Linked DNA regions of Homo sapiens: all the other regions are reported to be linked to region 1. Evidence: microRNA targets listed by miRTarBase, many of them from high-throughput screens and not tested one by one. Region 1 holds a microRNA gene; each other region holds the end of a gene's coding sequence.
The links. Region 1 holds the annotated microRNA hsa-miR-8068 (UGUUUGUUGUAAGGAUCGUUGU, at 3,687-3,708, opposite strand). A microRNA usually pairs through its seed, bases 2 to 8, with sites in the 3' UTR of a target mRNA and lowers its output. Matches are read on the target gene's strand: a 7mer-m8 pairs with bases 2 to 8, a 7mer-A1 pairs with bases 2 to 7 and ends in A, and an 8mer does both.

Region 1 (5,425 bases):
GCCTTTCATCTCTATCTGCTTGGTGAGAACCTATGTTTTCTTCAGGGCCCAACCTCTTTGCACCACTTCATCTGAAGTTTTTATGCCACACCCTTTCCTTTTCCCCATTCCCATACCCCAGGGCAGAATTGATATTTCCTCTTCATGCTTCTATTCTACCTCTGTGAAAGACTCTAGAGTATGTCAGTTGTTTCCCTATCTATTCTCCCAGTAGCAGTGAGCACCAAGGCAGCTACTGCCTCATCTTGTACATGGAGAGATGCACACAAATACACATGTATATACATACTTATAGATGTATAAGTATATACAAGTATAAATGTAAATATTTATAAATCTATCCTTAATAACAGAAAATATTTATTACAAATATTTAATACATATTAAATATGTCTATATAACAGAAAATATTTATTATAAATATTTATATCCATTTTTCTCATGCTGGCCTCCCCCCTTGTGATAAATATACACTAATTTAAGGTGTCTATGTTTAATTCTCCTTTCTTTAATCCAAGAAATAATGATAATGCCTCTCTGTAAAATAGGTCACTAACACTATTGTTGAAAAATATGAGCAAGCCCCCTCAAAATGCTATAGAAGTAAATATATATTCATAAATTTGGATATATATGTGTTCATGAGAAAGTAAGCTCCTAAAAATAGCTGAAGGTGACCCAAGCAGCAAAATCCAGCTTTTTTGGGAGAATATTCACAGACAGCCTGACAGTCTTAAAGTGGATGGCAGGTTACTAAGAAATGAAACTGAAAAGACTCCTGGTCTAATCTGTAGGTATTCAAGGATGATGTAGCCTAATAAGGCCCCACACCAAAGAAGAGCGGATGGTGCAAAAGTTTAGACAAACATCACATTTTTGTGACAAATGTCCATATTTGGTTTGAAAATGCTGTTAACAGAAATATTCCCTGTATGTGGGATTTGACCAGATAATGAAGGGTGGACTCTACATAACCCAAGTGAGGGTGAATGGTGTGTTGTTTCAATACTATTTTAAACTCCCATGCAGTTACTAATGGTGGTACTTGGTCATTGAACCTCCCAGGTCTCAGGATAAGTGCCCTATGTTTAACACATGGAGGCCATAAAGACAACCTGACTTGCTGGTGATACAGGTGACCAAGAAGCAGAGGTCCTCAATCCTCTCTCTCTCTTATTTAATCAGATCGTTTTGATAGCCAAAGGTGGTTATTTGAACTGGATCTGGATAAGCAAGACGCCTACAGGTCAGTTAAGCAGTTGTACTCACCTGGGCAAGAGTTGATTTGAACAAAGGCTCTGGAAGGTGTAAAGGGAAGGTAAACCCACTAGAAAGAAGCTATGGAAGGCTAGAGGCCCTATTAGGGACTGAGTTTCTCACAGTGAGTGGAAACCATGAAGCTAAGCTCACAGCCAAGCTTCATGTTGGTAATTCATGTTGATACTCTAAATGATCAAATGAAAATTGCATGATCCTCTTCACCAGCTTGGTGGTGTGAAGTCACTTCTTTTTCTTTTTTAATATTCAGGTAGCATAGAATTATTCTGAGATTTTCCCTCCATCTATTGTCCAAGATTTCTACTTACTTAGTCCAAAGAGTCCAGCCCCATTTCTAAACTTCAGGAAAATAGAAAACTAGAAAATGATTTGTCTGGTCATGGTCTCGTGGTGTGGCTGTTGAGAAATGGTTTTCATGGTTTGACACATCCTGGTACCCTACTTCAGTGTTGCCATTGGTGGTCCAGATCTTCTACAGGGTGTATTCACTCTTCAAGAGTAAATTTCTTCACTGCCTCTAGTGTTATGTTCTGTTCAGAGTGTTATCTTTTAGGCTCCCAAGGTTGCAGTTCTCTAGTTGAGATTTTCTTCTACTTACAGCATTCCCCTGAGCTAGGGAATCTGAGCGGTCCAAAGGGAATTCAACCTTAATCGTATGTTTTTCCAAAGCCAACCTTCCAGATCACACTCAGTTACCCTCTTTTTACATTTAATAAAACTTAGTTCCACAGAACTGAAGAATTTGCCTGTCCACTAAGTGGCTGAGCAATGGCAAATTTGGGGGCCTGCCTCTCAATCAGACCAGTGACTGTCCTCTCCTCCTGCTACCACCTAGGCTGCCTGCAGTCCTCTGTGGCATGCACACTTTTTGGGAAACAGTGATCTTCAGCTGAGCTTAATGCACAGCACCCTGTCATGATACCTTCATCTGACTTCTGTTTGCTTCCGCAGAACCAGGCTTGCTAGGGGTAGTAGACAAAGAACAGAAAATGAATAATTTATATTTGACTCTCTCACAGAGGCTCCCCACTGGGTTGCTTTCTAGGAAAAATATTCCTGGCTTGCAGTCTCAGCGTGAGAGTATGTGCCAAGCCCAGCCCATTGTCCCCCTCTTCACACTGTCTGAGATATTAACCAGACAGAAATATCAGGCTGCTGGGTTTGATTATTGCCTCTTTATTTTGGTCCCTGGGAAGAGGGAATGCTTTCTATCATTTATGGATAAAACCTCATTTTTCTGAGTGTTGAGTTGTTGTCGAAATGACCCAGATGGTAGATAAGGCAATAGTGGTGACTCTAACAAGACCACCAGAATTCTTATTTGGTATTATTGATGAGTTTCCTTTCTGAGCTTGGCTGTGAGGTATTTGTATTCATCTTCCTTGCAAGCCAATTTCCATTGGTCTGAATTACGTACTGAGAGTTGAGACAGACCTTAGAGGCTTATTTATTCCATTTTATTCCTTCCTACTGTTCTAAACAGGTTAATCAATATGTCCTCGTTCTTTCCTAAGAGAAACTATATTTCCTTTCAGACCATGTAGAAGGGCAAGCCCTGGAATGCTATGTTGTTACCACAGGACCCAGGATCCTACCCTGGTCACATGTTGGTATCAGATGTGAGGATCTGACTTCAGGCACACCTTAAGCTAACCAGTGATCTATGGTGTAGCTTAGTGCTAAAAAAGTTCAACCAATGACTCTTAGGGGATAATCAGTTACCTTTCTGTACTGCACTTCTTAGTGCTGTAGAACAAATCATATTGTGAGCAGTGAGATAATAGAGAAGGACCATAATAGACATGAGTGAGCAAAGTTGTGAGTAATTTAAAACTATGAAGCAGCAGAAATTACCGATAAATTGAGAATGGGGTTGAAAAAGAAGTCAAGTAGTAATAGGAGAAGCAAGAGACAGAAAGAGAAACAGGAAGAGAGGGTAGCATAGTGCTTAGCCACGTTAATGGGAGTCTGCCTGTGACTAAAATCCCCAGACTTGTGCTGTTGAGGTCTAGAGCTTCAAGAAATACAGAATAACTTTTTGTTCCAGTTTCTTTATGTATGGTCATATTGCAATTTATTTTCTTTTCTTTTTTTGAGATGGCGTCTCACCCAGGCTAGAGAGCAGTGGCACGATCTTGGCTCACTGCAATCTCCGCCTCCTGTGTTCATGCAATTCTCCTGCCTCAGCCTCCCAAGTAGCTGGGACTACAGGTGTGCACCACCATGCCTGGCTAATTTTTGTGGGTTTTTTTTCAGCAGAGATGGGGTTTTGCCATGTTGGCTAGGCTAGTTTCGAACCCCTGACTTCAGGTTATCCACCTCCTTGGCCTCCCAAAGTGCTGGGCATATTGCAATTTTTATTCTTGAATATCTGGCAAAGTATTTGTTGTAAGGATAACTGTATTGCCACAACGATCCTTACAACAAACATGAGTTAGCCTGAATGGAACTCTGTCTCACAACTAACATAAAATAGCCTTCTTCATTTCCTACCTCATCCAATATAAGGATTTCCCTTATAGCATCCCTGGAAAAAAATCTATACACTGTCTATTTAAAGACCCAAAGATTGGGTGTTTTATATTATAAGAATGCTCATTTCATTTTAAATAATTTTATGGAGTCAATCTTGAGGCCGTTATCAACTTATCCAGCCCTTCCATTGTTTTTAATATTCATCTTGAGCCATTCATTATCCTTGAATTCTTCTTCAATATTTATTTGTTTTTTAACCTAAAATTTTTCTGTATGGTATTTTTTGAGCATTAAGCTCAAGTTACTGCTAGCTTTTAATTTTCCTTTCCATTTTAGAATGCATCCTCTGATAATTGATTCTATATAGATATGGTTCTTACATGTTGGTGGTCTCTGTTGGCCACATACTACCACCAGATCCTAAGTTCTCTTTTCAAAATTGTTTTATCCTTTATCTATCTATTAGCATGGCCAAACTCTCTTATACCCCAGCTATAAAACTTTATTTTATATTTTATTTTGTTATTTTAGACCTATGTCCATGATCTTAAAACTTTAGTCAGATAAAGAAAGGACCATCTGGAAGAATCTGGAACCTCTAGTTATTAAATAAACTGTAAATCCTAAGGAGATACCATATGAAGGAGTAAATTTCCTCTTATCTTGGTAAAAATGTTGACCATGCTGTTTTTATGAATTCAAGCTCTGTTTATATCCTAAAGCTATGAATCTAAAGACCACTCACAGAGATGGTGATTATGAGTCTATGCCTACCATGATTTCGTGCCTTTAAATTAGACAATTTTCACCCCATCACTCAGATAGTAGACAACAGAAGACAAATATTAGGCGAGTCTGTGGCCTCAATCGTGGTGATTATCTGACCTCTCTTGCATGGTTTCTGTCTGTATTGTTTGTATCTACTAAATTTCAGTGTTACCTTCCTCCAGAGCCTCTTGTCTTTATCTCCAACTTTTTTATGTCTCAAATGTGCCAGCAGATTTGGTATCCCCGCTTTTGATGCTTGGGATGCCTGGGAACATCTCTTGCATTCTTTGGCTTGCTTTGCTCCTGGATGCTCAGGGTAACCACCTGGTATTCATTCACCTCCCCTTTCTCCAGAAACAAAAAACATGAAGCAGTAAGCAACAGTGGCAACTTAAAGAAAGATCAATATGCTATTATTGCTATTTTACAAATGATCTTCTAGTTTTTGGGAGGTTCCAAGGGGCCATAAGTGACTTGGAATGGAAAGGAGTTTTGGTGTTGATGTTTTTTTGACTTGTAAAAAGCTTAAATTCCATTATCTCCTAGGAAGCAGAAAACAACATGGCACCTGCCAAGGGAGGCCCCATGGTTAAGGTGCAGATTGATGTGAAAACAATAGAGAGATGTATTTGGCAGGCGTTCTTACTACTACTATAAGAATGTAAACTTGTACTTTGAAAACTCTAGTTTTTTGCTTATTTCTCTTTGTGTGTGTGTGTGTGTGTGTGTGTGTGTGTGTGTGTGTTTGCTTTTGTAATGTTATAAAATTCCAGCCATGATCAGTTGAACTAAGAATAAAGGAAAGGGTTGTTGCTATTTTGTTTTATTTGTTGATTCTTTAAATAAATATTTATTGAGTGCCTACTGTATGTCATGACTATGTCAGATGCTAGTGTTAACAGAA
Region 2 (5,425 bases), not on the chromosome of region 1:
TCTACTTCCTTCCTTCTTTCCTTTCTTCCTTCCTTCCTCTACTTCCTCTACTTCTCTCTTTCTTATTTATTGCCTTTAAAAATAATGGTCACAGTGAAGATTTGGGCTTATCGCATAAGAAACATAAATTTCTAATTTAAAATTAGGAATGTTCCAATTGGGAAGTTAGCAATGAATGGTAGTCTTATTTATGGATGATAATATTCAAGTTTTCTTATATTCTTACAATTTTCTGTATGAGTGGAAGAACTACTATTTCCTTTTTTCTTTTGTTGCAACACACACTTTTACCAGACCCTAAAATACTTTAATATAAAGACATACTTGTTTCATTTTGTGAATAACTTTGCTATGGTTTCTTGTTAGTTAACAATTTCAAAATTTAAACATATGTATGATCCTATTGATTATGGTATGTTTACTATGAAAGTAACAGGAGGTCATTCACGAAACTCAGCCACCCCTAATCATTTTTAATTTTTATGGAGAGATGAAATGACCTATCTGCTTTCTATTCTCAAATTGCAATTTTTGTCTTGTTCCAGCCATAGTTGTACTGTATGTAGCACTGCGAAGGCAGAAGAAAAAAGACACCCTGATGACCTCTAAAGAAGACATCAGAGACAACGTCATCCATTACGATGATGAAGGAGGTGGGGAGGAAGATACCCAGGCTTTCGACATCGGGGCTCTGAGAAACCCAAAAGTGATTGAGGAGAACAAAATTCGCAGGGATATAAAACCAGACTCTCTCTGTTTACCTCGTCAGAGACCACCCATGGAAGATAACACAGACATAAGGGATTTCATTCATCAAAGGCTACAGGAAAATGATGTGGATCCAACTGCCCCACCATACGATTCACTGGCCACATATGCCTACGAAGGGAGTGGGTCCGTGGCAGAGTCCCTCAGCTCTATAGACTCTCTCACCACAGAAGCCGACCAGGACTATGACTATCTGACAGACTGGGGACCCCGCTTTAAAGTCTTGGCAGACATGTTTGGCGAAGAAGAGAGTTATAACCCTGATAAAGTCACTTAAGGGAGTCGTGGAGGCTAAAATACAACCGAGAGGGGAGATTTTTAAAAAAGAAAAAGAAACACAAATATTAATAGAAATCTCTCTCACACACACACACACACACAAACACACACACACACACACACACTCTGGGACAAGATTCCTTTGATTACCTGGTTTCTAGTAAGTTACTAAATTAATCATATTGTCAGTTTTGGTTTATTCTGCCAACAAGAGATACATCCTATAATGTGTACTTGCTTTGTTTTGTTGTTTTGTTTTTTCACAATCACACTGAGACAAGCTCAGGCCTATTCAATACAATTTACTGACATGACAACCTAGAACGAAGATAGCTATGTGGCATCACGGTGGAAGAGTGTTAGATTTTTCTTAATTCCACTAAAGTGCCTATTGAAACTCTTATCATTTAAAGTGGTGTACAGTACACTCTGCTGTGATGGTATTGCGGGATTCAGAGATAAAGACATAAAACAAAGACACCGTCTTTATGTCAAGAAGCAATAGCGACACTCTGACTCTCCTCATTCCTTTTGAGAACAAAAGAAGAACACTTTCTGATCTCCACCTTCTTCTAATTCAAAAGGTTTTCTTTTTCTTTTTTAAACTGTATGCTAAAACGTATTTGTTTATCCTATCCTTTCAGAAAATTGAAATAAATATGAAAATATCAAGTTCAATATGTAAGTCCCAAATTCTAGAAACAATGTTTGATCTTAACATTAGTTCACATTAAAGCTGTTCATTAAAATGTTACTTTCTTTTCCAAAAAAAAAAGAAAGAAAAAAAAGAAAAAATATTCCTCTTTATAAAGAGAGGCCTCAGGGCTCAAATTACACATTAAAATAAATATTGGTTTTGCTTAATATTGTACTGGTGTGTGGAAAATTGGTTTTAACAGTCACCAGATTCAGCTTTTAGTCATAGATGTAATTTCAAGTTGTGTTTCTATGAAAATTCTTAGAAGAAAAAAGTGCCATTCATTTAAGCATGGAAAGAGAAATTCATTATACAGTTTCTCAGAGTTTCTTACAATCTAGTGATTCTTTGATGAGCAGCAAAAATAAAATACATATCAAATAATAGAGGATGGATTTATAAGATGTCTAAAAATATTTGTTATACATTATTGAAAAAAATAAAAAATCAGGGACTTAAAAAAGTTCAAACCAATGACTGAATCCTAAAATGAACGTAAATTCAATTTCAGGCAGCTGATATACTTACTTTACTTACATGGACTTCAACTTTGTGAGCACCATTATTATATTGGAGCTCATAGTTACCTCTTTGTTCTCTCATCTACAAAAATCTTAATGTAAATTATCCCTTACAAATTCCGTGTAATGATGCAAATTTCTAAGTAATATTAGATTTTATAAGCGCATTAGTAAACTAAACTCACATACATTGCTTTCAAGCGGATTGCACACTAGCGTGGAAAACATAAAAAGATGCAAACTAATTACAAAATAATATATTTTATATGAATATGATAACTACTTAAGTGACTACTCTAATATTGTCACTATATATATGAAAAAAATTAAAGTTGCTTATGGGTCCATCCTGAAGATATGGTCACTATCTAGCTGGGTTTATGAAATACTTATAGATATATTTAATATTTGCAAGGTTTTGAAGCTAAAAATTTACACATGACAAAAACAGGCAGAAATATAGACAACACAAGAAAATCATATTCACCGTTATTCATTTATAAATACATCCTTTAAAATGATCCAACTACTCACTATGCTGTGGCAATGGGGGCATTTGAATTCACATTCCCCATTTCTTTGTTGATATCTCCCAGTTGCATATTCTCATTTTCTCCCTCTCAGGAATGGCTGTTGAACTTGTTTTCTTCCATCTCATCCCAATTTTACCTTTGTCTATCCCAAGAACTGCATTATAATATTGATGTAGTGTGATAATTTATAGTATGTTTGGGAAAGTATTTACATAACATGTTTTAAAAGCTGGTGATGCCATAACCATCCTAGAGAGAAAAATTAGGACAATTTTGGGATTTGCCTTAGCAACATGATTTGCTATGGATTGATATATAACCCCTGAAGAAGCTTACTATGCAAGATTACTTCTGATAGACAAAAAGATTCCCATCAGGAATTGCTGCATTTTGCATTTTGCTAGGAAATCTAACTGCCTCTGCATGAGATCATTTGGCAGAAGCAACGGTAGCATGGAGAAAACTTGTGAGGGGCAGGTCATTTCAAACTTCATGGCTGAGGTGCTAAACAAAAATATGAAATAAGTAGATCTTATTTTCACCAAACTGTTAAATACTTTTGAGTACATCCGGCTTTTATTTTTGCCACACCACTGCATTCCTTTGCTAGGTCTGCCATAACAAAATATCACAGACTGAGTGACTTAACCGAAATGTATTTTCTCACAATTCTGGAGGCAAAACATCCAAGATCAAGGTGTTGACAGAGTTGATTTCTCCTGGGAGTCCCTCCTTGGCTTGCCCATGGCCGTCTTCTCTCTGTGTGTTCACATGGTACTCCCTCTGTGCTTACTCATGTCCTAATTGCTCTTCTTATAAAATACACCAGGCCGGGCGCGGTGCCTGTAATCCCAGCACTTTGGGAGGCCAAGGTACATGGATCACCTGAGGTCAGGAGTTCAAGACCAGCCTGGCCAACATGGCGAAACCCTGTCTCTACCAAAAACACAAAAATTAGCTGGGCGTGGTGACAGGCACCTGTAATCCCAGCTAGTCCAGAGGCTGAGGCAGACAGAATTGCTTAAAACCCAGGGGGCAGAGGTTGCAGTGAGCTGAGTTGTCACCACTGCATTCCAGCCTCGGCAATAGAGTGAGACTCTCTCTCAAAACCAACAAACAAACAAACAAAAACAAAAAAAAGATGCCAGTTATACTGTATTAGGACCCACCCATAATAGCTCTTTTTATCTTGATTACCTCTATAAAGGCTCTGTCTCCAAATATAATCACATTGTGAGTTGCTGGGATTTAGGACTTCAACATATGATTTTTGAAGAGACACAATTCGGCCCATATCAATCACACAGGTGTTCATCATATTTTCTTTTTTAAAAACTGGCTTGGTTTAAAACACACACAAAAAAACCCAAATATATGGAAAAAAATGAATAGAAATGATTTCAGATACAATGGGTCACCAGAGGAGAGATATGGGGAAAAGAGGTCTTTGGTGCTCGTAAATATAAATATTATGGGATACATTTTATGCTATGACATCACACTAGGCCTAATATTTCAATACTTATAACATGTTGGGTTCTGTTTTATTTATAATAACAAAATTACTGACCTTCATTTAAGCATTAAGCACTATAAAAATGTTTAGAATTTATATGGGGAATTTTGACTATTAATAATAATTAAACCATAATTTTGTTATTGCCTTGCATGTTTACTTTTATAGAAGTATGTATGTATGTATTATATGTAACATATGTGTGTTACTTATATCTATTTTTAAATGTTACATTTAATTATATTCAATGAAGTATTAGATCAACACATATGAGTGAAACGATGTGATATGCTAGAAATGATCTAAAATTACTTTTGTACCAAATTCTCACCAGAAATATGGGTCAAGCTCCTTAGCCTCCCAGTGTTCTGTTTTCTTTGGCAAAATTAATTTGTTGAACTTAGTGTTGTACAAATTTCCTCTAAAATGTCTTGATTCTGAAATTCTAGTGACAATCTTATGAAGTTCACTAAATCATTTAAATATTGACTACATATAATTATGAGAATCACAGAGAACCTTTAAGCATAATATAAGAATTAGGAATCTTTGAACTATGGATTGCATTGGTTATACATTAAAACTCACCGCTTCTACAACATAAGAGGAGCCAGACAAACATTTCCTAGGTGCAAATGTCAAAATTCTTCTGCAAGATTGAAAAGCAGAGGTGTACATATGAAAAGAGAGAAAAAAGTGTTAAAATAGTTAGGCCCAGATCTTGAGCCAAACAGGATAAACAAATGGTAGGAAGAAAAAATTAGAAGGGATGTGCTATTGCCCACAGAAATCCTTGGAAAATTTCAGTAACTATTTTATTAAAAATGGGAATTCCTAAAACCACATGTCAATACGCAGGCCTTATATTTGAAGTGACCCCTAAGTTATTACTAGACCTGAAGAAAGAGTTTATTAAATGTCAATAAACAGCCTGAGTTTGGTTACTAAAGGAAGGGACATGTGTATGTGGTGGTAGGTGTGTGTTATTTTCATAAATTACTCCTTCCTTGAATTTATTTATTTATTTATTTATTTATTTATTTATTTATTTGCCTCATCAATCTGTAGTTTGGCTAGGTACATAATTCTCATTTGAATTATGTTTTTTAAA
Region 3 (5,425 bases), not on the chromosome of region 1:
AGGCGCAGGTCTCCAACTTCCAGCGAGAGAATGAAGCCCTGCGGTGCGGCCAGGGTGCCAGCCTGACCGTGGTGAAGCAGAACGCCGACGTGGCCCTGCAGAACCTCCGGGTGGTCATGAACAGTGCACAGGCTTCCATCAAGTGAGTGCCTGGGAGGCACCGGGAAGCCTGGCGGGGAAAGGGGTGAGATTGGAGTGGTCGTCAGTGATCCTGGGTGGGGGCCCAGGCTGATGGCACCGTGGCTGGAGGACCAGGGAGCTGCAGGGAGGGACGCGTGCTCAGTGGTCCTGTTAGCTCTCTGGGTCACTGTGTGGACAGACCACAGGCTTTCTAACCTGCCTCGCAGTGTCTGATCCCACCTGGGAGGTGCAGACAGCCACAGCACCCTGCACTGAACCTCAGCCCCACCCCATGTGGGCGCTGAAGCTCTGAATAAAGGAAATAGTGGGGGTTTCCCTCCTGCTGAAAAAGCCACTTCCCAGAAGGCCCTTACTGCTGTGCCTGGCTGGGGACACGCCAGCCACCATGACTGTGACAGTGGTGAGTGTCTGCCACCCATTGGGCTGAGCTCTGCAGGGCGGTGTTGGCCCCCAGAGCACTCCCTGTGAACAAGGGAGCCGTCTCCTGTGAAGTCAGGTGTGGGTCTCCTCCAAGAGGAGCTAGGAGTGGAAAACCTGTGGTTCTCCCCCAGCCCCTCCCTTTCTCCCAGGAACCCTGTCCCTTTCTTCCCCCGGCAAACCCCACCCCTTGCTCCCAGGAACCCTGTCCCTTTCTTCCCCGGCAAACCCCACCCCTTGCTCCCTGGGACCCTGTCCCTTTCTCCCCCGGCAAACCCCACCCCTTGCTCCCTGGAACCCTGTCCCTTTCTCCCCCCGGCAAACCCCACCCCTTGCTCCCTGGGACCCCTTCTGTTTCTCCCCCCAGAATTCTGTCCCTTTCTCCCTGGAACCCCTTACCTTTCTCCCCGCCAGAACCCTTCCCCTGTGGAATCCCTCCCCGCTCTGGAAACCCTCCCCTTCCTTCCCCACCCCCACCCCCGGAATTCCTCCCCTTTCTCCCCCTCAGAACCTCTCCCCTTTTTCTGCCTACCAACCCCTCCCCTTTCTGCCCCCCACCCCCTGTGGAAACCCTCCCCATTCTTCCCCCTGGAAACCCTCGCCTTCCTCCCACTCAGAACCTCTCCCCTTTCCCTACCCCTTGGAACCCCTCCCTTTTTCCCCCTACCAACCCCTCCCCTTTCTCCCCCCAGAACCCTGTTGCTGCTGAGTAGCTGCTGCCACCCATCCTGATATCCATGCTTGTTTTCAGGCAACTGGTTTCCGGAGCTGAGACACTGAATCTTGTTGCCGAAATCCTTAAATCTATAGACAGAATTTCTGAAGTTAAAGACGAGGAGGAAGACTCTTGAGGACCCCTGGGTGTTCTCAGCATGAAGCTCCGTGTATACCCTGAGGTCACCACCGCTCGATCTAAATGTGCAGTTGTGTCCTTAAATATGCAGTCTTCACCCAGAGTAAAGTGTTGATCGCAAGAGTCCAGTGTCGTGCCCTCAGCCAGTTCTTGGCCACCACAATGGGAGCAGCCCTGGCCGAGTTGTCTCTGTGGTTTCTATGCAGCCCTTCTTGGCGAAATTCCTGCGATCTTATAGATTCTAATGAGCTCTTGGAAGACATTGTCATAAAAGCCAGTGATTTTAAGAAAAAGAGTGGTTCTGGAATCAATGTTTTCCAGTCCCATCCCAGAACATCAGTTGTAAGATAAGTACAATTGGTTGTCCTTGATTTCATAAGTAGAACAAACACTAAATGTGCCTCTGAGATGGCCACCCCGGGCAGGGACCTGTGCCTTCCGCCGATGCTCAGGGCTCCCTCTGGCTCCCGGGTCACTCTTGTGGCCCCAGTGGGTGGTCCCTGCAGTCATGGCCTGAGTGCGCAGGGGCCACCGCGTGGCTGCTGCTGTCCTCCTCCGGGACCCACGGGGACCAAGGTCACACGTTCCGTGCTGTGAAGCTGTCCAGATGTGCCTCTTTGGCTGGGGGTTCTGGTGGACGTTTCAAGTGGCATTTTGTACAATGCAGGTTAGAATTCAGGAATTTCAAGTATGTGCCCGGGTCTGTCAGGTCCCAGTTGCCTTTCTGACGGCCCCCCTCAGAGGGACGGCGATGAGCACTAAATGCTTTTTTGACTATTTTCCTATAGATTTTTTTTAAAACTTTTTTTTCCTCCTGTTCCAATTGATAGCTTTCTTATTTAATAAATTCTGTAGTTCACCGCACTGTCTCTTCTCTGCTGACTTAGCCAGTCCTTGGAGAACGCCGTGGGCTTCCACACCTCACTTGCTCTTGCCCTAACTGGTGCCTTGTGCTGGCAGATTCTCTCCAGGTCCTCAGCCCTTGGGGTTAGGGGCAGACTCAGACCACTGCTGCCTGGGCCTGACCACTGGGACCCACACGTGATGGACGTGTGAGTCACGCAGCTGCACGTTTCAGAGCTGGACAGACTGGATTCTAGCATTGGATCATCTTTTCGGATCATGTGGTTGAATTTTTCAAACAAGGCGTCTGAATTGCTAGACCCCTAGCCTTAGCTACAGGTGAAGGCCAGAGCTTTCCAGCAGTCACTGTGGAGCGGTCCTGCTGCGTAGCCCTATGCGCCTCCTGCTCCTGCTGGTTGGTGAAAGCAGGCTCTGGATTCTGTTGGCAGAGCTGACTTGAGACAGGGTGCTGTGGTTGGGAAGTGCCGGAATGAGGTTCTGAGTGTATAGGCAGCTCTGGGAGCCCTGTAGCAGCAGGATGGGGGCATCTGGGGAGGATGCCTCAGGCCACAGGCCTTCCCTGAGGCCCTTTGGGAGAGACAGCATTTGATGGGGTGGGGGTCACAAAGGCCAGATCGCCAGGCGGGTCCCATCCACCAGATGCGTGTGAAGTGGGGTGGTCCCCTGGCCCTCATGCCAGCAGCTCATGGAGCAGGTGGGGCCCAGGGAAGCGCGGTGGGGATGGGCATGTGGGTTTTGCGCACCCCTCTCTTTTGATGTCTGTGTTTGAAGCGTTTGATAGTAAGAAGTTTAAAAATACAATTTGTGGCGCGGTATTTAGTGCCTGCCTTCTGCCTCCAGATTTCAAGCCCGATGCAGGGACTGAAACGAGGCGCTCGAGGAGCCCCCAGCCGCCTGGTTCCATCCCCTCCATCTGTTTCTTGCCAATCCCTAGCTCCCAGTTTGGCCTCACCTGGGCCTAGCCCTTTGCCACCAAAAGCCCACCTCCTAGGTAGGCAGGGCAAACCCTCTTTATAGTTCTCCAGCTGATGCCCCTAGCTCACCCCAGGCTGGAGTGGAGGCCCCCTCAACTGGCTGGGCCCAGGATGTCTTTGCAGCACCGATACTTAGAAGCTCTCAGGAGCCAGGAACTGTAGGCCCCTGCCCAGCTCCCGGCCGAGTTAGCCCTGGCACGTTCCTGAAGGAATGAATGCCCACTTAGGGGAGGGCCCCGGGGCAGCTCTCCAGGCCAGGAGACCCCAGAGGGTGTGCACAGGTGACCAGGGAAGCGAGTTTGTGTGGTGCGGGCCCCCACCCTCTGGCCTCAGTCTCCTGCACGTGCCTGGAGATCGGCCTGGCCTCGGCGATCCTGAGCATGCAGGGCAGGCTGGGGAAAAAGCCTTTCACGTAGACTTTCTCATCCGTTGCTTAACCAAACCCCAACATGTCCGTTAACAGAGGATGAAACAAGCACAGAGAGGTCCAGCGATGGCCGAAGGTCACAGCCAGTAAGGGCCGGTCTTCCGGATCGTGACCAGGTGGCCGGGTGCCTGTCCCTGTCTGTCCCCTGCCTTGAGGTCCCGCGTCCACCCGCGCCCCTCCAGAGCGCGCGGAGGCGGCCCCCAGGGCGGCCGCGCGAGGGCAGCATCGAGCCGTTCGCCTCTCTAGTCCCGGCAGGCCGCAGCGGCCGTCCCGGCGTGCCCCGCGCCTCAGGAGGCGGGACTTCCGGCGCGCGGCGCTCTTGTTCTGCAGCCGCCGGAAGCGTCGAGTCTGCAGTCGCCCGGGCGACGGCGGGGTCCGCGCGGCCAGGTAAGGTGTGCGCCCAGCAGGTGAGGCGCGGGTGGCGTCGGCAGCTTCAGGGCTCTCCCCGTGGAGGGGGCGCTGTCCCGAGGAGCGGATAGCCGAGGCCCGGGACGGGGGCGGGGCAGCGCCCAAAGTCGGGGAAACTGAGGCCCGGCGTGGCCCCCGTCCGGCCGAGCCTGGGCGCGCGGGGATTCTGGCCCTGGGAGCCCCTCGGCTGGGAGCGGGCTGCGGGCTCCGAGGAGGCTCCGGCGGGGCGGCCCCGGCTGCAGGGCGCCCGCGTGCGTCTCGGGGACTGCGCCGGCGATTCCGCGGTGGCCGAGCCTCGGAGGGGGTTTCCCCAGTTCACGCAGCGAGCAGGAGGCGGAACTGGGCCTGGGCCGGGTCTGTCTCCCAAGCCAGTGCCTAAACGCCCATCGTCCTGGCGCATCCTGGGGTTCCCTGGGCCCAGCCGAGTCTGGGTGGCGTCCCCGCAGCTGGGGCTGGAGGGACCGCCTGCTGCGCTCCGTCTTGGTGGGCAGCCCTCATGACCAGCCCTTGGGAGAGGGGTGCGGGGAGAGGGACAGCCCCTGATGTCAGTGGCTCAGCACGTGTGACTTTGACCTCCTTCCTGCTGATCATTGCTCACCTGAGCGACACGGGGAGGGGGAGGCAGCAGCCTCGTGTGAGGCTTCCAGAGGAAAGCGTCTCCGCCGGCCCGGAGGCGCTGAACCAGCCTGCGGTCGCTGCCAGCTCTGCCTCTGGCCGGCTGTTAACTGAGTTTACAGGTTCACAAGCATTTCGGGCATAAACAAGGGGCTTTGTGAAGGAGTGAGGGGACCTGGGCTGCTGATGCGGCTAACGGTGCTCGCGGGTGGATGCTTTGGTTTTGTTCCAGTTGGGCAGGGCCCCAGTCAGCCTCCAGCAGGGAGAGCCACGCCAAGGACGGGGGAGGGCGTTTCTCTTTGTTGTTGGGTGTTTTGGGCTCCCGGGTCTGTGCTAGTGATTCCTTTAGATTTTCTCTGCTAATGTTTCATTCTCCCACTCTCTCTCTAGCGTCCTTCTCCCTTCAGACTTCCTGGACCACAGTTCCTAAGAAAAAAGCTTGACAAACATTTGTTAGTGTCAGGCACTGCCACGTTCCAGGCGTTGTTCTGGATGTACAGAGAACAGCCAGCCTTCCCTTTGGGAGCTTCCTTCCCAACCATGCTGTTAGTGCCTGCCACCTGGGCAGTCTCAGTGTGTGTCTCTGTGAACGTTTCTCAAATGCCCTCTGTGGTCCGGCTCTGTGTCATGGGAGAGCAGGATGGCCAAAGTGGGTCACGGGCTGTGTCCTTGCCCTGTAGTGACTTTGCCACTGCACCCCACACCTTCTACGCTGGGTGGCCAGTT
Region 4 (5,187 bases), not on the chromosome of region 1:
TGTACTTTGTATTCTTTGTCTTAATCTCCATTTAACCTTTTATTGTACAAAAATATTTAATGATTCCAAAATTTAAAGGTGTTTATTTTTTTAGAACCTTTTCTAATGAAGATTAAACATATAAGATTTCCTATACAAAACTAAAACCACAGCCATGCCTACCTGCTGCAAGCGATGTTTTCACTTGACTCCACAGGTTAATACTTTTGATTTTAAAATGACTTACCTTCCTTGTAGTGCTATGAGAGACTTGCATTAGCTATTTATGTATGTATTAACTATTATAAAAGCTTGGGACAGAATGTCACTTACGAAGTAGCTAAACTTGGCAAGAGACTTTAAATTCTAGAAAGACTGCCTTCTAATGGAGGACAGAAGTCGGCTAAGGAATAGTGTTTGTGTAACAACAAAAGGGCTTTTATCTGGGAGTTCCAATTTCAAAGAAGGGAAAAACCATTTTGAAGTTATAGGGAAAAAAAGCAAGGTTGTATATAAAAAGGTACATGTTTAGGAACTGCACCATATTTGTTTAATAGATGATAGGAAGCTTAAGGTTTTTAACACACACATGCTCCAAATCTTTAAAATACTATGAACAAACAGATGAAATAAAAGAAAGTTTCACAAAAGTTGAAAATGCTTTCTTTGGTAGTTGTGGACTAGATTTTTAGGTAAATTCCAACATAGTACCCTGCAAAGTGAACACAAAGAAAATAAAAGCACACACACACACACACACACACACTACCAATGTGACTGTGACTTTGTGGCCTAGATCTCAAGGAAAAATACCAGAAATTCATTAAGATGTTGCTAGAGTCGAAAAATAGCCGAGGAATCTCTGCACTATCCATGTTTCACCAATTGGCCATGTGAGGGAGAGCTCCCACATACACTGATACATTATCTTTGTCATTGTAATTGATGCCCAATAATTTTCAACCCATCAAATGCAGTCCTGATGGAAGGGACATTTATTTATCTCCATGTAAGATGATCATCACTTAGAATCCCTAGCTGATCTCAAATTTCCTAACAGCTTAAATCACAATAGTGAAAAAACAAAACAAAAACAAAAACATAGCACTACTAATTTCCCGACTGCCAAAAGAAGATAGGATCTCACATACCTGAGAGCACCTATGAGTGCCTGCTTAGTGAGTTTAGATACCCATTCCAAGTACCAGAGAGAAGACAGGTCATCATGCCCAGATTTTACTAGCTGACTAGGTCCCTTTTTCCTGGAATGGGTAGGGTTGACACTATCCAGAGATTCCGAGGGGCCAAGAAAGGAAGAGATATTTATATTTCCCCTAAAATAATGTTCTAGAACTTTAGTGTGACTTATCATAGCCTTCACAGAGTCTGCATTTCCTAATGAAAAGCATTACAGAAGGTGTTCTTTTTTCTTACATTAACATTCGTTTCACAATAAATTCTTCAAAGCATGAAATAATAATTTAAAGCAACTATGTCATGGCTGAGTCCTAATCCTGTATTGGAAGTCTGTATAGGTCTCCAAAACTCTTATCACCTAAAAACCTCCAGAGGACATAGTGAAACTAGGTTTCTGGGCTTCCAGATGCATTTAAAGGGGAAATAACACCAGACAAAATACAGACTAAAATAATAAGTAAAACACATTATCATGAATAACTATGTGGTAACAAAGCAGATAACAAGAATACATTTTTGTAAACATATAAAATCCCAAACTGGCACAATAAAAAATAGAATACTTACACAAAAAACCACAACAGAAATAGTAAAATTATCAGAGAATTACACATTGAAAGTTACTTATGCTGAGTAATTATAAGCAATGAGTTTCTCCCTGTATGTATCAACATGAAAAAATACAGTTGTCTATATAAAGTGACAAAAGTTGCACAACTATTTAACATGATGCTAAAATATATATGTGTGTGTATATACATACACACATATGCATGCTCACATGTTCTTAGAAAGAACAATCTGAAAAATTATACACTGTATTGTTAAAAGTGGTTTCTTCCTGGGTACTAATTGGAGCAGGAATCAGTTCAAGTTTATAGACCCTATATTTGTTTCAAATTCTTACTTCTATTAAAAAAAGTCTAGATAAAAACAAAACTTGATGAAATATACGGTCAAATTTAAAACAACATTGAAAATAATCAAAAGAGTTTTTAGCCTTTCCAGATCCCAAGAAAAGCTTCTAGAAAGTATAGAAGAAAATTGTCTGGATTCAGAGTCACACGTAGTGACAAATTCATGCTTTGATATCTAAAACAGGACTGCATAGTCAGCTGGGAAGTAGGCAGGAAAAAGATTTTGGTCCTTTTCTGTTACCTCCAAGTAGCTAAGGCACAGGATCTACACCAATTTGAAATCTGGGCAGCCAGTACCCAAATGGGTGAAGAGACTTTTTTAGGTAGACAGAGGTATAGTCAGCTTCTTCTAGACCATCAACATCAGTCTTTCTATAATTATTTAGAAACAATTTCCAACTTAAAGCATGAGCAGGGGTAAAAAGAAATGAGGAATGATACATTGTATCTTGGCATGTATAGTTCCCTCAAATACAGCAGTATAATTGAAGGTGGCCACAGAAAAAGCCTGTAAGTAGTGTGTTTCTCATTGCTACATCCAGATAAAGAATAATGGACTGTCTCAGATTTTTCTAAGACATACATTCTAAGAACAATACAGGGACAGCATGAGTCAATCCAGTAGTGTCTTAAAAAATGGAAGCTGCAGAAAGTGGAAACTGAGGGTGAGTCTGTACACAAACTTCTTTCTTAAATTTGTGTAATTTAAAATCTGACAGGAAGATTCTATCAGTGTTTACAGAAAGGGGCAGGGATCAAATTGGGGCACAATGAACTACCATTTAGTTGTTGCTCCAGAAATAAAATTCTCCTCTCTGGGTTCCTGATTAGCATAAAGTGCATACATCATCTCTAGAGAAACACTAGATGTTGATGGAATAATTCTTGCTAAAAACTGAAAATTTTTTTAAAAAGACAAGGACAAAACCCCACAATAAACCAAAAGAAATCATGATAAGGTGGATGTTTATTTAAAACAAAAATAAGAAGAGACATGGCCTATCATCATGAAGATTCATAGGAAGAGTTTTCCTTTGTTAACGTGGAGATCTTGCAGGCTCACAGTGTGAACATATGGCACCTTTGGACCTCTACTCTTCTAGATTGAGGGCTTCCTGAAGGCAGAAAAAATGTTTATTTCACCTTTGTATCCTGAGCACATCATCAACACGGAAACACACCTGTTCAACTGTAGGGTTTTAAAATATTTTTCCTGAAAATGTTTTGAACCAAGAGTCTATATTCTTGAAAATAAAATCAGTCTTTCTCATTGTCTCAAACAAGCTGATAAGTCGATGATGGGGGACATTGGTAGTTAGGTAAAGAAGATGTGTTAATGTACTCAGGAACTAGAATTTAGAGTTATTATGAGCAAAGAAAGTCAGTTATCCAATCTTTTTGACAATAAGATGTTAAAAGTATTTTGAAACTATAGAAAAACACACTGACTCCTCTTATAATCTATTTCCAATGTTATTTCAGATGTTTAAGTCAAAGACTCGTTGCAGAAAACTGTTAGCTTCTGTTCCAGAATCCTTGAGTGGTTAACAGTACAGGCTCTGAATAGAGATTATGTGAATTAAGGCACAGACTCTAGCTTTTACAAACTGTGTGAACTTAGTCAAGTCAGCTTATCAATCAAGCCTCAGATTTCTTATCGGAAAAATAGGTTGCTGTGAGGATCAAATACATGTTTAGTGCTTAGCACAGTACCTGGGATGTAGACAGCCCTAAACATCTGCTGCATTGCCACACCTATTTCGATTCTTTGCCTCATATCATTTTTCAGCTCAACTTAGGGCAAATAAATGAAACAGTTGAAATGTGTGCACTTATTTATTCTTCACTAATATTAAACCAGGTAATTTATATCTGTCTTTGGCAAATAACATACACAAATCTATATATATATATATAAATGTTTGTATAAAATTGAATATTCATGATTTTAAATTTGACAAACACTGTCAGGTAAAAATCAAACTATTTTACTAAGTTAACATCTCATTCAATTAGTTGTAAGTTGTAATAGCGGCATATTTTACATGAGACTATTAGAAAAGGATAATATTAAGTCATTAACATTATAAATCTGACCACTTTTATTAGGTTGAGGTGAAATAGAGAAATCTCTACTATCCTGGAGAGAAACAAGCAATAAAACCATGTATTACAAGTTTAAAGAAATGAATTTATCCTAAAATCATCAGTATCAGCACCCCAACAAAGCAACTTTGCCATTTCTACTTAAAGTACACTGTAGCTTGATCAGACACTTATCTCAGCAGTACTTGTTTAAGCAGGTCTCTTTGTACAAAAGCAAAACAGAAAGCAAAACAAAATCCATAGCCATTATTTACCTTGCACCCAGTAAAAGCCAAGAGATTTAAGGTAAGGACATTTTCTAATCCCATACCCATGCTAACATCATCAACATTGCTGATACAAAACTCAGGTCAGGAAAAGAAGCTCAAACAGGGAAGGTGAGTGGCAACATTTTATGTATGCTAAATTGGATGGCAATATTAGATTACATCTTCTGCAACTGTGGTGTCAAAAATCTGATAGCAAATTTGATTATCTGTTCCATTTGTGACATTGTATGACTTGATGAAGCATTCCAACCACGGATATGCATCTACAAAAACAAAAACAAAAAAAGCGATTTAACCATTAAAACAAAATAAATAACTCTGAAATAGGTACCTAAGCTTACCACTGAGCTAGAAAAATTAACATTTATTTTGGCTTGAAAAGTAAGTAAACGTCCCTTCCAAATTTAACATTATTCTCTCTTCAAAATACATACTAGATTCATGTTATTGTTTTGGAGCAATTGTGACTAATTTGAATTTTTTGCCACAAGCAGGTAACAGTGAGTACATCTTGGGTTTCAAAATGGTTGGTATATATTTTAAAAATCTAAAATAGTGGTTACAATGGGTCTACCAGGCCCATGCTTTTGGATATAAAGACTTACTTCTAGAAATCTATCCAAAAGAATCCAAACAGTTAACACAAATTAAAACTGACAACAAATAAAGGTATTCAAGTTAAACTTGGTTAGAGATCAACACAAATTCCTATCATTATG
Region 5 (5,382 bases), not on the chromosome of region 1:
CAGGGGGCCAACAGTGCTGTGTTTCCAGAGAGTTCCAACTGGTTCTCCTGAGCAGCAATGGTTGAGAACCACTGCTCTCATCCCACGTAAGAGGAGAGGGCTCTGAGTGTGCGAGTGGAGTGGAGGGGGACCTCTGGGGAGCTCCAGCACTTAACACAGCAGGAAGCAGGGGGCAGCTGTGACGGGACTGGCTGGCAGTGGTTAGGATGGTAAAATGCTGAGAAGCCAAGGGAGGCAAGAGCGGTCAGACAGAGCAGGTGTGGCCAGTTGCCTCCAGGACTGCAGAGTTGAGGAATCTGAAAGGAGGCAAGTGTTTTGGTCAGTAGGGACCTGGGGATTTCTGAGAGGGCAGACTCAGTGAAGTGCTGGGAACTCAAGCCAGTGAAGATGAGGCCACTGAGGAGTGAAGGCAGGAGCAGGGTGTCAGCCTTTGACGGGACAGGGTGGATGGAAGGTTATTTGTTATGGCGAAGGTTTATGCAGGTGTCGGAGGCCCAGGCAAGGGCAGACTGAAGACACAGGAGAATGGGAGGTTCGTTCTGAACAGCATCTCACAGTAGCTGGTCCTCCTGTCCTCTGTGCCTATGCTTTCTGGCTCCTTCCTTCCAGATGCTCATTGTGTCACTTCATGCACTTCAGAAGGGTGCTTGGTTTTAAGTCCAAACTCTTCTGACAAGCTTTCAAAGCCGTACATATTTTTACCCCAATTTTTTGTCTTTCTTTCCTTATGCTTCCTTAATAGTCTCCTCCTCTGTCAGCTGATTTCCTCACACACAACCCAGGCTTCTTCTTGCCCTTTCCCTGAAATGCTCTGCTTAGCCTCTTTAAATATTCTCTATCTCTAAGGCAAGTTCAAGTTTCATGTTCTTCAGGTAATATTTCATATAACACTCCTTACTGTTAGCACAATTTCTTATTTATTCTTTCACATGTTATGATTTCTTTTCCCCAGTTAGATGCTAAAGATAGAACAAGCTGTATTTTATTTTTTAAAATCCTCTGTAGCAAGGGTTGATAAACTTTTTCTGCAAAGGGTTAACTAGTAAATATTTCACCCTTTGTGAGCCGCTTACATCTCTGTCACCTAGTCTTTTTTTTTCTTTAACAAAGCTTTTAAGATATAAAAACCATTCTTAGCTCACAGTTCTCAGCTATGGAACAGATTTGGTCCACCAAGTATAATTTGCCAACCCTAGCTCTATAGCATGGAATGCTTAATGGACCACTAGTAAATAGGAGCAGATAAAAATAACTAATGCTTAATGAGCACTTATGATGTGCCTGGTATTTAACAGGTATTATCTCACTTAATCCTCACAAAATCCCCTGAAGTAAGTGCTATTATTGCCAGCATTGTATAAATAAGGCATGGAGAGTTTAAGTGCCTAACCCAAGATCACAAAGCTGGTAACTTCTATAATAGTTAATGGATGAATAACAGTTGATTGGGAGTGATGCCTAATAACAGTTGATTGGGAGTAATGAAAAAGATGATATATCAAACATCTTTTGGAAGTGTACCTCCTTACCCATGTTACTAATATCCCCAAAGTTTATTAACATCTGAAATCTGTTTACATAATCATGTATATATATGTTGTTTTTATGGGATACAGCACACATTTTCATAGGCCTATGTTTATTCTCAACTTTCTCATTCCATCAGTGTATCCCTGGATATCGGGCTGAGGAAGCAGTGGAAATGTTAAAGACCTTCTACAAACAAGAAAATCCAAATGGTCAGTTTTCTGTTGTGGATAATGTCCTTCCCTTAAATCCATACAAAGAGAATCTGCTATGAGCTTACCTCTTCATTTTCTTTTTCTTTTCTATTCTTTTCACAGCACCAAAATCGAAAGTTCGGAAAAAGGAATGTCAGAAATCTTGAACATGTTCTGATGAAAGAACCAAGTGACCCAAAGTGACCTGGACAAGATTCATAGACTGAAAGCTGTTGACATCGTTGAATCATATGTTTATATATTGTTTTTAATCTGCAGGAAAATGGTGTCTCTCATCATTTGCTCTGTTAAGGGAACAAATTAGCACTTTTTAGAAGTCTGACAATTGTAAACAGTTATTAGCTTTTCCAGAAGCTGATTCCCATTTTAAGATGGGGGAAAATTAAGGTTTGAGGTTTTAGAAATTAGCAAGTAGTGCATACCCTTCTAGCCACAAGTGCCCAGTCCAGGCAAGTGCTGACTTCTTAGAGAATGTGTGGCCAGACCCAGGGACCTGGAGTGTGTTTGGACTGCAGTTTGCCACCCTGAGAACACCTTCTCCAGGACTGGCATTTCAGAATCAGATTCTTCATTTTTTGCAGCTACGATGTTCTTCCAGGGCACTGGGGGCTGTGACTTCTCTCTAAATTGTATATAAGTTGTGTATATAGAGACCATAATTATATGGTCCTTAGAAAAGACTTTGCTTTTATAAAGCATTTAGAAAAAATGCATACTTTTAAAACAAGTGCTTGAGTTGTCACTTAAAAATTATAGCATATTGCTATAATAAAACCTTATTTATGTCTTATTTGAAGATGAATAGTCTTAAAAGATAAAGACATAAATGGGACAATTGTTATTGAGCAAAAAACCAAATTATCCCACCCTCATGGAGCTTATATTCTAGCAAGGGGAGATGGATATGATAGATTACACAGTTTATTGGAGGACAATAAGAGTTATGGCAAAAAGCAAAAGGAACACAGGGTAAAGGGGATAGGTGCCATTTGGTGGTGAGAATGCTGACTGAAAAATAGAATGATCAATTTAATCTGAAACAAATGGTTATTTCTTTTATAATCCATATAATAAATTTAAAATCTAAAATGTAAAATTTTGAACACAACACTGGAAAGGGTATCCACAGCAGGAAGTCCCCAGTTCACCTCCATGACTACAGGGCAGCTTTGCACAGCCCTCTGGGCGCACTGTGTGCCTCTGCCCAGAAGGGGGCCTCGCCGTTCCACCAGAAGCTCAGCTCCAGGCCCTGGAGGGGCTGCTGCTCCTCAGTTGCATTTCTTCAGTAGATTCATTTCCTTGATGCAAAGCATCTGTATTTGTTGGTTCTGTCATTTGAGCGATGTCTCTGACTTGTTTGTTTTGAATTACATTACAGGCTGGAATGTAATTGTGGTGAAAGTATTTTTATATTGCTGAGAGTAGCAGCTAATCACAGTTACATGCTTCAGAGGACTTATAATTGCTTGGTTTTGTGTGTGTGTGTGTGTGTGTGTGTGTGTGTGTGTGTGTTTAACTGCATTTGAAAAGTTTTATGGAGAATATGCATGATTTTAAATCTGTGATAATGTTACATGCACCTTCAATTTCATCCACTTTAAAAATTATCTTCTCATTGAATTTTAGTGCTTCTACTAGTTTGTTCCTTTTTGCAGTTGGTCGTAATTCATTTCTGGCTTCTTATGCTTTCCTGCAAGCAGATTTCATTGCATTTATTGTGTTCATATCATTTTCTTGGGGATTATTTGTAGGACAACCAACCTGGAGTTTTGCCTCTCTAGAGTACCACCCAGTAAGTCTGGCTGAGCATCTTATGTCCAGTAGGTTCTTGGTAAACATTTGCTAAATGAAATTACTGATTGAAATTTGGGGAAAAGTGAATAAGAAGACTATCTAGGACAAAAAGCCAAAGCCGAAAATAGTATATGAGCATTCTAGCCCAGAGACTGTCGCTACTAAAAGAATGAAGGAAATAATAAAGTGATAGACAGGGAAGGATAGAAAAGACTTAACAATATACATATGTTCCGTCTTTGCTGTTTTGGAGAATGATGGATAAGTAGTGTTTCCTGATTCTGAAGCATAGCTGAACAATTTAATTGTGGTTTACCATCTTTTTGGTTCCCTCTTCAGTAATTAACCTATCGAAAATCTGTCCTAAATGTTTGGACTGGGGCACAGTTCCCTCCATCGCTTTGGGAGAAAATCATTAATATGGCATACTGCAGATTGGAGGGCAGGACCACTGAGGGTGTCATAGACATTAGCTCTATGGAATTCTGCTAGCAATTTCCAAGTGACAGTGAGGAATTATGGATATATGTTGAGGTCATTCAGCTTCCTGAGTACCACATTCCCCAGCTACTTAGACACGGGTTAAAATATTAAGATGTCCTAGTTCAACAGCTTGAATTCCATTGATTGATACTGATAGTGCCTGTCCAAGACACCAGCTGAAAGACTTGTTTTGTGTACAAAATAGTTCTGAAAGTGGTGAGATACAAAAAGGTTTTAGAATCACTGCCCTGTTGAGAGAAATTAGGGGGAAATGATTACATTTAGAAGCTGCTAGAGTTATCCAGTGTTTGCTGGTCTTTGCAACAAACTGTGGAGAATGGGTGGTATGTAATGCTTTGGTAGGCTTCAATCACTGATAAAAGATCATGTTAAAATATCTTTGTGCTTTCTTGTTACTTGGCACAACCATCTCTTCCTGTGTTGTATTTGGAGTATCATGGAGAGAAAATAGATGGCCAAGAGCTTCAGTGTAGGCAAGAACTCTTAATTTTTCTTTAAACTTTTTACTGGGAAAAGTATATATATATAAAATACACACACACACACACACACACACACACACACACACACACACACAAACACAACACACCATGGCCCTTTACCCCGAAATGCTTCAGTATAGTTATTGACTTAAGTAAATTTAACATTGATATACTTGAATCTATCATTTGTATTACAGTTTTGTCAGCTGACCCAATAATGTCCTGTAAAGAAGTTCTCCCACTACCCTATAATCCCAGGTCCAGTCTAGGGTCCAGCATTACATTTACTTGTCTTGAATCCAGCTTTTTCTTTTTTTTTTTTTTTTTTGAGATAGGTCTCACTCTGTCGTCCAGTGGCATGATCACAGCTCACTGCAGCCTCAACCTGGCTCAAGCAATCCTTCCTCCTCAGCCTCCTGAGTAGCTGGGACCACAGACTCATGTCACCACACCTAATTTTTTTTTTTTTTTTTTTTTGTAGAGACAAGGTCTCACTATGTTGCCCAGGCTGGTCTTGAACTCCTAGGCTGAAGCAATCCTCCTTCCTTGGCCTCCCAAAGCACTGGGATTATAGACGTGAGCCACTGCACCGGTCTGCCTTTAGCTTCTTTTAGTCTAGAACATTTTCACTGGCTTTCTTTGTCTTTTATGACATTGACATTTTTAAATAATACAGTCATTTTGCCTCCTTTCTGTTTTCTTCTTCTTTTTTTAAATAATAGAATGGTCCTTGTTTTAAATTTATTTGATATTTTCTTGTGATTAGATTCAGGTGCTGGTTGATGTTAAGTTCCTCACAGGATATCACATCTGGAGGCACACAAAGGCCGTCACACCAAGGTGATGTCAATTTTGGTCAT
Region 6 (5,425 bases), not on the chromosome of region 1:
TAGATTCTCACAGGAACGGAAGTCCTATGGTGAATTGCGCATGTGAGGGATCTAAGTTGTACGCTCCTTATGAGAATCTAACTAATGACTGATGATCTGAGTGGAACAGTTTCATCCTGAAACTATCTCCCCACACCGCTTCATCCATGGAAAAATTGTCTTCCACAAAACTGGTCCCTGGTGCCAAAAAGGTTGGTACTGCTGGTTTAAACCATTCTTAGTTCTGTTTCTGTTACTTGAGGCTAAAAACATTACTGACAGATAAAACACTCATGCTAAAAAGATAAGCAGTGGTTTCTGAGTTATCACAAATGTTCATTCAGAAACGATCATTAGGAGGCGTATGGAAATAATTATATATATTTAAAAATATGGATAAAATAGCTACATACAGTAAGAAATCATGGAAAAAACCTTTAATACTGAGAGCCACTGAAACCATTAAATGCACATTAGGAAAAAGGAACAAAGAAAATAACAAAATGGAGCAGGGGTGGGGTACATGGCAGAGGTTTACTCTGTGTTTATCAAAACCCCGTTTTCTTCCTGGGCACATAACCAAACTACATTTCCCATCTTTTTTTGCAGTTGGTTGGAGCCACAAGATCAAATCCTGGCTCATGGAATATGGTCAGAAGTGATGATGCCAATTCTTCTGGGCCTGGCCCATAAAAACTCCCATCTAATCTTTGCTTTTTCTTCATCTGCCGGCCAAATGAAGATTTTAAGCAGAATCACAGAATGGGAAGAGCCTGGGCCCCTGAATTACTATATGGAGCAGAACTCCTCCTCAAACCTACTTATGACTGTGATAAGAGCAATGTAGTAAGTATTGTGCTTAGCTATTGCAGCAGCTAGCATCATTTAGTCTAACAGAGGTGGGAATGGGATGAAGAGGAAAAAGGAAGAAAACGATGGGCATATGGTATGAATGGTGAGTGCTATCAGATCTTTCCACAGGTTCCTCTGCCCTGGCCTACCTAGATAAATTAAGCTGTTCCTTTTTTAACACAGATTGGCAACATTTTTTCTTTTTTTCAGACAGGGTCTCACTTGGTCACCCAGGCTGGAGTGCTCTGGCACAATCTTGGCTCACGGCAACCTCCACCTCCCGTGTTCAAGCACTTCTCCTACCTCAGCATCCCGAGTAGCTGGGACTACAGGCATACGTCACCATGCCCAGCTAATTTTTATATTTTTTGGTAGAGTTGGGGTTTCACCATGTTGGCCAGGCTGATCTCGAACTCCTGACCTCATGTGGTCTGCCCACCTCGACCTTCCAAAGTGCTGGGATTACAGTAATGCGCCACTGCACCCAGCCCAAAATTTTCAATAGTTAGGATAAATTCTTTCTTTTCTAATTTCCTTCTTTTGCTCCTTCCTAAATTTACCATTTTGGGAGGCTTGATTGTCTTAACTAATTCTTTGGAACATTATGATTTTTGAACTGTCTGAGACTGTGTTCCTGAGCAACTGGTTAGGAAGAAAGTCTGCAAAAATTTAACATCAATTTAAATATATCTTAAAATATATTAAAAATAATCCCTTGTTAAACAATTTTGACACTTTGGGATATACTCCAAATGAAGCTTTCTATATAACCAATAAATAACAGTTCGATCTGTACGCCTGTTCAAACAGTAGTACAAAGTTAAAAACCAATTACTTGGCCAGCTTGCCTTGTCCTAACATTATGATATAGCTATTACTATCAAGTACAAAGACACATAAACCAATTGATAAATTATATATTACATGTTTATTAAGAGCACAACTTTTATGTAAAATTTACATTTAATGAAAAAAATCAAAAATATTTACAAAATCTTGGAAGACAGATGTGCATTGTTCTAATTACAATCCAAAGTAGTAAATAACAATCCTTTAAAACTCACATTTATTAGAGTTGTGTTTACAAATTCTTGGTTAAAGAGGCAGCTACAAAGTTTATCACTATATATAAGCAAGAACCAGCTTGCTAGGTACATTTCCCATTGAAAATCTACTGGTCTCTTTTACACCATTAGTGGATTTTTAAATGGAAAAAAAAAATCAATATAAACTCATATGGCTTCAAAATTGTAACCTGTACCCAATACTTGGTATGAAGACTGTGGTAACTAAGAAAGTGCAGAAGTTTAACCATTTCACTAATTTGTACATTTTTAGGTAATATTTGATTAAAAACAAACACGGTAAGAACAGTGTCTGAATTCCAATAATAAAATATTGGCTGCCCTAAAAGCAGTTTGATTGCAAAGCAAATTACAGTTAGAATTCCAGTAAGGGACTGTAATTGGCATTTAAAAGAGCACAATATAAGAGTTAGAAATTCTAATTTAGCTCACTATTTAGTAAAGATTAGCATTTTAGCAAATTATCTTATGTGCTGCTTTAGTCAAATGTAAATTCAGACTTGGGCTAACATTGAATATATAAAAAAGCATATACTGTGTTATATATTGCTAAAGAGTAGATTTTCTGCTGTATTTAGTACAGCAAGATGTTACATAAATGTCTAGTAATAGAGGTTTTATTTTCTGTGAAGCTTAACGGAACAATTAGTGGTTTTATATAAATTATCATATATAACACAATTTATCACTTCTACTAGGCAAATAAAGGACACTCATATTTATTATTATAAATGAAATTCCCATTTGTAAATTATGAAACCTTATCCGAAATATTTTATTTCTTCAATTAATCAAGATTTGCTACTAAAGTTAGGTTTCTTACTATTTAGTATTGGTAGTTTATTTTTAGAAATGTTTAACCAAATATATCACTTCAAATAATTTCCCTATTTTTACAAAGTAGAAATTGAATAATTAAAATGTACAAATTGGTAATTTTTCCAATTGTTGAAATAAAAACAAATGGCAGTGCTTCTCCTTCTGTTTCCAAAATTAATCTTTTAAAAAATGCATCCCTCACAAAATACCATAAAACTCATGTTCACAACACAATCAGTAAATAAATGCATAAATTTTCAATGATAAAGTATCAAGGAAAATGCTAAATTGAGAGTTAAAATACCAGTTACCAATTTAGCACTATAGTTTTTTTAGAATTTGTTTTAAAATTCACACACTTTTGATGAGGTTAATGTCAAGTATCTGAAGGTAATCTTTCTTCCTGTAAACACATGCCATTGGGTTTATTTCTCTTTCTAGTGGCTACAGTGTATCACCAAAGAAGTGAGCCAGGATTCTTAAGTTAGGCTTTATGACTCTGAATCCCCTTCCCAGTTGCAGGCCAAAAATATTTACAAAAATTGCAAATATCTTATAAAAATGCTTGATCACTGTAAGATTCTGAACAGAAGATTCAGACTGAGAAAAAAAGTGAGGCACATTAATGAACACAAATTGTATAGGCACATCTCTGGTTTTTGTTATTGTTTTAAAAGGCACACATTATGCAATTCCATATAAAAATAAATTAAATCTACAGCATTAATTCATCAAAAAAATCACAACTCCTATAAAGTTAACTAACTGCAGAAGTAAATGTCTCTGCTGTCATTTGCAAGCTTATTTTAAAACACATTGCACTTGAGAATTTTTTTTAAAAATCATATAAAACATCACTTATACTTTATTAATATGTTTATGAGAATCAAATTATAGATTTTTTGCATACAACTTGGACTCTGGTCTGATTACCTTATGGCACATAGCTCAATTTGATTAAGTGTTCTGAGTTAACATTACCCAAAACTTAGAATTCATGTTCTATTTGTATCCACTGAATATCAAACTTATGAAATTTCAAAGTTATCTCTGACTCTAAAAATGTATGGAAAGCTAAATTACTTTGTGCTTGCTCTTCTGAAACTTTAGGCCTGATATTACACTATAACCCTTTTTTTCAACATAGACACTGGAAATAATTTAAAAATTAATCCTACAAAAACTTCATTTTTACTGAGAATCTGAATAAATGTGCTTCCTGAATATTGTAGTTGATCATTTACAACATAGAGAATCATTTCAGTACTATTTATTTCAATGACTCACTTTAAAAGTGCGATTTAATGTTTGTAGTCAGCTCTCAAATATGTCTAAGTTTGAAAGACATCATACAAGTTAAAATAGTGTTTGGAAAGAACAGATAATGCAGAATGGCAGGTTTGTAATCCCTGAAGCCACATCACTTTCCCAGGTCCATCAACAATCCGCCAGGTATCGTCCTGAAAAACGCCAAGCAGACCTTTGCAATTACAATTTCAAATGCACTCTAAGGACATTTTCCACTGTGGTTACCAATACAAAACTCTAGTTCCCATCTGCTATTTACAGTACATTAGAATCAGATAACAGGTGTTCAGCTATACTGACCGTAAGAACTCTCTCCCAGGTGTGTCTCTACCTGGCACCTTGTACCAAGGGTTAAAGAAAAAATTTCCATGTCTTTAGATTATAAATTGCTTGACAGTTTTTTAATAACTGTTAGAATACAAATGTTTCCCATGTACATTAAAAAGTTTGAAATCTCCTAACTTACCAGTAGCAAACCGCTTCTTTATTAAGGAAAGCCTATAGCCAGTGCCCACAAGTTCGAAATCTACTCCTGAAAGGGTACTTCCCTCGCTGAGGAATTGTACTGCAAGTGTCGTGGGTTTACTAGGTCCTTCTGAAAGATCAAATTTTGCTCGGAGGGACCCAGAACCTACAAAGAAAAGAATAAAGCACTTACACAGGGTAAAATACATTTCAAACAAAATAGAATCAAATGAGCAAGTAAGCTAAACTACATCAGTCCTGTGCTACATTCATTAGATGTGCACAGTAAACAAACTATTATCCTGTTTCCAAATCTCATATTTTTTAGTGAATATCAATTTTCATTAAGTAAATAACCCATGCTTTTCTTTGACTCAATACTAATCTTCAGAGATGTTAACTACTGGACTCCTATGCTATATGCATGTTGAGGCGAGTCAAAAGAGAAGAAGGAAGTAACTGAGGACAGCCCAGAGAAAAACCCTAGGAGGGATATAGGTGGCATAAAGTTAAAAAAGAAATGACTACTGAGTAGTAGAAGAAGTAAAGATGGAAAGGTAACTACGGTTGGGAAGAGTTGTATAACATTGCTATTTTCTATTCACTTTTCTTTTTAAAGTTTTACTGGTCTAACATAATGCCAAGTAGGTATTTCTGAGGTGTTTTGTTTCTAGTATCATCACCATTTATTCAGTATACTTCAGTCTAATGGAATGGCAGGAACAGTAAACCAATAATTATAATGAATATTATAAATGCTGTAAAGGAGCTCTGAGGAGCTACAGGCACAAAAGCACCTATCTCAGCTGAAAATTATAAATGGTGGTGGGGATGATGGTGTGTATTTTAGGCAGAAGTTACCAAAGATACAGAGACAGAGCATGATGCATTTAACGAAATAGCATCTATATCAGATT

Region 2: miRTarBase lists CDH12 as a target of hsa-miR-8068. Seed matches in the 3' UTR shown: 7mer-A1 at 1,147-1,153.
Region 3: the mRNA of ENTR1 is a reported target of hsa-miR-8068. Seed matches in the 3' UTR shown: 8mer at 1,795-1,802.
Region 4: the mRNA of POT1 is a reported target of hsa-miR-8068. Seed matches in the 3' UTR shown: 7mer-A1 at 4,013-4,019.
Region 5: miRTarBase lists ADAT2 as a target of hsa-miR-8068. Seed matches in the 3' UTR shown: 7mer-m8 at 4,342-4,348 and 7mer-A1 at 4,615-4,621.
Region 6: the mRNA of FCHO2 is a reported target of hsa-miR-8068. Seed matches in the 3' UTR shown: 7mer-A1 at 4,041-4,047.

The regions. Positions count from the first base shown.
Region 1 is chr11:28,473,831-28,479,255 of GRCh38, forward strand. MIR8068 (microRNA 8068) reads right to left here and starts at 3,718; the gene lies at 3,651-3,718. It also overlaps a transcript of METTL15 not described here.
Region 2 is chr5:21,747,357-21,752,781 of GRCh38, reverse strand. CDH12 (cadherin 12) reads left to right here. Exons shown (of 15, transcript NM_004061.5): 15 at 546-2,109. The coding sequence ends at 1,045. Among named protein-coding and RNA genes, the nearest start is that of SNORA105A, 130 kb to the left of the region's middle.
Region 3 is chr9:136,398,772-136,404,196 of GRCh38, reverse strand. It overlaps ENTR1 (endosome associated trafficking regulator 1), which reads left to right. Exons shown (of 10, transcript NM_001039707.2): 9 at 3-142; 10 at 1,310-2,275. The coding sequence ends at 1,409. It overlaps SNAPC4 (small nuclear RNA activating complex polypeptide 4), which reads left to right and starts at 4,027. Exons shown (of 24, transcript NM_003086.4): 1 at 4,027-4,063. RefSeq lists silencers at 3,580-3,629, 3,780-3,989, 4,060-4,189, 4,260-4,369 and an enhancer at 2,878-3,814.
Region 4 is chr7:124,819,344-124,824,530 of GRCh38, forward strand. It overlaps POT1 (protection of telomeres 1), which reads right to left. Exons shown (of 19, transcript NM_015450.3): 19 at 3,043-4,731. The coding sequence ends at 4,619. Among named protein-coding and RNA genes, the nearest start is that of LINC03043, 31 kb to the left of the region's middle.
Region 5 is chr6:143,424,969-143,430,350 of GRCh38, reverse strand. ADAT2 (adenosine deaminase tRNA specific 2) reads left to right here. Exons shown (of 6, transcript NM_182503.3): 5 at 1,667-1,739; 6 at 1,845-5,382. The coding sequence ends at 1,888. Among named protein-coding and RNA genes, the nearest start is that of ADAT2, 23 kb to the left of the region's middle. RefSeq lists an enhancer at 2,813-2,882.
Region 6 is chr5:73,086,838-73,092,262 of GRCh38, reverse strand. It overlaps FCHO2 (FCH and mu domain containing endocytic adaptor 2), which reads right to left. Exons shown (of 26, transcript NM_138782.3): 25 at 4,510-4,674; 26 at 1,741-4,195. The coding sequence ends at 4,173. Among named protein-coding and RNA genes, the nearest start is that of TMEM171, 31 kb to the left of the region's middle.